2 separate regions of the Homo sapiens genome follow, and region 2 is linked to region 1. Evidence: fine-mapped expression QTL. Tissue or cell type: whole blood. Region 1 holds a variant in brackets; the other region holds the start of a gene. All regions are shown on one strand. Distances are between the middles of the regions.

Region 1 (2,500 bases):
TGAGTACAGTAACACCACAAAGGGGGTTGCATTTCAGAAGTGGGTGCCTGAGGACACTGGTTTATAAAGACAATGCCCAGGGTGCTCCCCGAGGCGGAGAAGGTCTCCCCTTCCTCCACAGGCATCATCCCTGGAACAGGCGTGGGGACAAATTTTACCGCCCCTGGGGAGCAGAGGAGACGGAGGCCTAAGCCCCAGAGATAGGAGAAAGGGACCCCCTCACACTCTCACCTTCACCCGCAGCATCTCCTCGGGGATGTTGACCATGGCGTGGGTGAGCCAGCTCTCCAGGCTCTTGGCAAAGTTCCGGATCGCTTGGGTCAAGGCACCTGTGGGCGGTGGCGGGGGTCGGTCAGGGCAGGGCGGGTGTATGTGGGGCAGGGGATGCCGAGCAGGCCGAGCACTCACTGGGGATGGGCCGCAGCACGTCGGGAATGAGGATTTCCACCAGGCCCTGGTACAGCACGTTGTCACAGTGCTTGGTCCATTGGAGCACGGGCTCGAACTTGGAGAGGAGCACCAGGATGGCTTTGGGCAGTCGCTTCTCGGCCTCGTCATGTCTGCGGGCACCCACCCCACCCCGGGTCACTGGGGTACTCTATGGTCCTGCCCCCATCGTCAGAAGGGAACAGGTAGCCCCTGTCCCTGACCCAGGGTCACTGGGGTACTCTGTGGTTCTACCCCCAGCATCAGAAGGCACAGGTACCCCCTTACCCCCACTCCAGGGTCAGTGGGGCACTCTGTGTCTTGCCTCCAGTGCCAGAAGGCACAGGTATACCTTGTCCCCAACCCAGGGTCACTGGGGGCACTCTGTGGCCCTGCCCCCAGCGTCAGAAGGGCACAGGTACCCCCGTCCCCAGGTAAGTACCCCCTGCCTCCCAAAGATCCCCAGGGTCTGGTTGGCACAGGCCCGAGGGGTGGGACGGGATCCTATGCCCTACCCTCCATACAGGGGTCAAACAGATTCCAGAACCTGCCACTCCAGGGAGAAGATGGTGCCCTGCCCCATGCCTGGGCTTAGTCAGGCACTCCACCCCCGACTGTTGAGTGTCGGGTGGCTATACACACTCCACACAGCCAAGGATATGTGTACCCCACAAACTGCAGGGGACAAGCAGGTGCCCCAACCCTGGCCATCAAAATCACCTGCGGGTCATGCCCTCCTCCCCCCTCTCCCTCCCACAGTCGCCGGGCAGTACTCACACAGCCAGCGGTGGCGCCTCACTGGGCTGGCTGAGGTTGTACCTCCAGAAGGTCTTCCACAGCGTCTCCACCAGGGTGAACTGCAGGTTCACCATGACGTCGACAATGGCCTGTGG[C/T]AGAGGCGGATGCTCAGGGAGGCTGGGGGGCAGCATGGCCCTCCCATGCCCGTGGCTGCGTCCCCGTCCACTTGCCTGCCCACCTGGCCACCCTACCTCACAGTGTTCCCGGTACAGGACCTGGAAGGCTTTGATGTCCCCGGGCCCGACGCCCTCAGGCAGCACCTTGCCCTGGAGGTCGAGCTCTGTGAAGTCAGGGAGGCTCCGAGAGGCATCTAGGGGGCCGGGGGGAACCGTGAGGCCCTTCATCCCCCTTGCCTGCCCACCCTGGGGTCCTACTGACCTGTCCGTTTCCCATCAGACTGGGGTCCCCCATGTGCCGGTGAGACAACGCTAGGTGGGGTGAGCGCCTGGCCCGGGCCCAGGACGGGCCCAGGAGTGAGGGCCCACACTCCTCTGGCAGAGAGGACAGGAGGGTCTTGTGCCAGCCCTGCCTGTCTGCTGAGTAACAGCACTGCACCAACCCTCAGGACGTGGGCCTCTGAGTCCCGGCTGCAACACAGCACCCACCTGGCCGGGGAATGGGTAGGCACCCAGGGCACAGTCAGGACCACAGGACACTGCCCTGAGCCTAAGCACCCCAGGTTGGGGCTAGCCATGGACAGTCGCCCTAGGGATGCCCCTCGACTCTGCTAGAAGTATTGTTCCCCACCCTCCAAATGGGATGTCCCGGCCTCCAGGGCAGGTGGGGAAATGAGCTCCCACGTGCTCAGGATCAAGGATGTGTGGCTGGACTGTGGGTTCCAAGGGTTGCTTGTTTACTTAGCATCCTTTGGCCCTGTTTTCATGGATTGTTGTTTACTTTGTCTTTTTTTTTTTTTAAGAGATGGGGTCTTGCTATGTTGCCCAGGCTGGTCTCCAACTCCTGGACTCAAGCAATTCCTCCCACCTCGGCCTCCCAACGTGCTGGGATTACACACGTGAGCCACTGCACCCGGCCTTTTTTATTTTCCTGAGACAGAGTCTCACTCACTGTGTCGCCCAGGCTGCAGTGCAATGGCATGATCTTGACTCACTGCAACCTCCGCCTCCTGAGTTCAAGCAATTCTCCTGCCTCAGCCTCCTGAGTAGCTGGGATTACAGGCACCCGCCACCACACCCGGCTAATTTTGGTATTTTTAGTAGAGATGGGGATTCACCATGTTGACTAGGCTGGTCTCGAACTCTTGACCTCAAGCGAT
Region 2 (2,742 bases), 62 kb after region 1:
AGTCCCAGCTACTTAGGAGGCTGAGGTGGGAGGATCATTTGAACCCGGGAATTCAAGGCTGCAGTGAGCTATGTTGCCACCACTACAATCCAGCCTGGGCAACATAGCCAGACCCTGTCTCTGAAAAAAAGAAAAAAAAAAAAGTCTGGTTTCTGAACCAGCAGGATCAATGTCACCTGGGAACTGGTTGGAAATGCAGATTCTTAGATATGTTCCATACCTGTTGAGTCAGGAGCTCTGCAGGTAGGACACAAAGATATGTGTTTTGTTTGTTTGTTTTTGAGACAGAGTCTCACTCTGTTGCCCAGGCTGAAGTGCAGTGGCGCCATCTCAGCTCACTGCAACCTCCACCTCCCAGGTTCAAGCAATTCTCCTGCCTCAGCCTCCCAAGGAGCTGGGGCTACAGACATGAGCCACCACACCCGGCTAATTTTTTGTATTTTTAGTAGAGGCGGGGTTTCACCATGTTGGCCAGGCTGGTCTCGAACTCCGGACCTCAGGTAATCCTCCTGCCATGGCCTCCCAAAGTGCTGGGATTACAGGCGTGAGCCACCGCGCCTGGCCTGATTTCTGTTTTAACAAGCCTACCCAAAGATTCTGAAGCTCACTCACATTTGAGAACCATTACCCTGGGTTGTTGGGAGAATCAAATACATTACAGAGATATAAAATGCTTTGAGCAGCTGAGGGCTGTGGCTCATATCTGTAATCCCAGCACTTTGGGAGGCTGAGACAGGCGGATCACCTGAGGCCAGGAGTTCGAGACCAGCCTGGCCAACGTGGTAAAACCCCGTCTCTACTGAAAATACAAAAATTAGCCAGGTGTGGTGGTGGGCGCCTGTAATCCCAACTACTTGGGAGGCTGAGGCGGGAGAATTTCTTGAATCTGGGAGGCGGAGGTTGCAGTGAGCCAAGATTGTGCCATTGGGACTGTACCTCTAGCCTGGGTGACAGAGCGAGACTCCATCTAAACAAACAAACAAACAAATAAACAATAAAATGCTTACAGTAGTGTGCCTGGCCTCGTAGCACATACTGCACTGGGCGTTCACTGCTATTATGATCTTCGAAGAGGTCCAGGACCCTAACGTTGTGGGGATCTGGTTGTGTCACCTTACCCCGCCTTTTGGGATTATGCGTTTCTGGTCTCTGCAGGTTGGAGACCTTCTCGCCTCTCTGTCAATGATGTTGACAATAAGCTGGGCCACATCACCCTGTCCCTAGCGAAAGGTTATCACTTCGCTGGGGACATGAGAAAGGTCGGGTTGGGGGGGCCGTGCCTGTCTCCCCTCTGCTGGAGAAGATAAGGGAGGCACTCAGCTTTCTTCAGGCAGAGTGTGGGGGAGCCACGATGTATAAATGGGGGGCCAAGAGGCAGCAGAGACACTGGCCCACTCTCACGTTCAAAGCATCTCCGTCCAGCATGGCCAGGTACATGCTGCTGCTGCTCCTGGCGGTATGGGTGCTGACCGGGGAGCTGTGGCCGGGAGCTGAGGCCCGGGCAGCGCCTTACGGGGTCAGGCTTTGCGGCCGAGAATTCATCCGAGCAGTCATCTTCACCTGCGGGGGCTCCCGGTGGAGACGATCAGACATCCTGGCCCACGAGGCTATGGGTGAGGCTGGGGAGAGAGTGGATGTAGAAGGGGAACAGGTGGCTGGATGGGTCCCAGGAGCTAAGGACAGAGATAAGAGGAGGTTGCTGGAGGAGGAGGGTCCCTGTCCTGCCACATTCAGCCAGGGACACCTGCCCAGCCTTGAAACAAGGGCTCAGGAGTTAGCAGAGCTGCAGAGCTGGGATGGGGTGTTGCAAGCCATCCATGGGGGCTGGAAGTCTGAGGACAGGTGGGGGCGGGGAGCGTGCCATTTGCAAAGACAACACCGAAGTGTTTTCCAACCCTTTCCAGCAGGTAATGTGAAGGGTGTGGTATACACATAGCTGGGTTTGTCACCTAATGCATGACCTCTCCCCAGCAAGTTGGTTTTTCTTCCGTCTCTGAGTGTCTTTTTTTTGGAGATGTGGTCTCACTCCATTGCCCAGGCTTGAATGCAGTGGCCCAATCACTGCTCATTGCAGCCTCGACCTCCCAGGCTCAAGTGATTCTCCTGCCTCCGCCTCCAGAGTAGTTGAGACCACAGGCACCTGACACCATGCCTGGCTAGTTTTAAATTTTTTTTTTGTAGAAACAGGGGTCTCACTATGTTGCCTAGGCTGGTCTCGAACTCCTGGGCTCAAGTGATCCTCCCACCTCGGCCTCCCTAAGTGCTGAGATTAGAGTCTCTGAGTGTCTTTATCTTCAAATGGGAGACACAGTTCCTGAATCTTGCAGGATTAAGTGGTATGATTAAATCAAAACAGATTAGGGCAGAGTCTCAGCAGGGCAGCGGCACAATCTGGGATCCATCAGGAGAGTCAGAGGGAACAGAAGACCTAGCTTCATGAGGGGCAGGGACCTGGCAAATAGATATTCATGATGGTGAGAAGGAGGATAGGTATGAGCGTGGACATAGAAGACACACCACTTGGATTCAGATAGTAGCTCTACAATGTAATAGTTGTGTGTTCATGTGCTACTATTTTTTTTTTTTTTGAGACAGAATCTCATTCTGTTGCCCAGGCTGGAGTGCAGTGGTGCAATCTTGGCTCACTGTAACCTCCATCACCTGGGTTCAAGCGATTCTCGTGCCTCCAGCCTCCCAAGTAGCTGGGATTACAGATGTGTGCCACCATACCTCGCTAATCTT

What was found. PIP is the estimated chance that this variant, and not a neighbour inherited with it, causes the effect.
Region 2: it holds the start of RLN3, and the variant in region 1 is fine-mapped to the expression of RLN3 in whole blood (TOPMed, PIP above 0.99).

Annotation. Positions count from the first base shown.
Region 1 is chr19:13,965,218-13,967,717 of GRCh38, forward strand. RFX1 (regulatory factor X1) reads right to left here. Exons shown (of 21, transcript NM_002918.5): 13 at 1,416-1,534; 14 at 1,204-1,313; 15 at 409-560; 16 at 232-329. Among named protein-coding and RNA genes, the nearest start is that of DCAF15, 14 kb to the left of the region's middle. The variant C/T (reference allele first, on the strand shown) is at 1,320.
Region 2 is chr19:14,026,782-14,029,523 of GRCh38, forward strand. It overlaps RLN3 (relaxin 3), which reads left to right and starts at 1,367. Exons shown (of 2, transcript NM_080864.4): 1 at 1,367-1,613. The coding sequence starts at 1,424. RefSeq lists an enhancer at 2,144-2,193.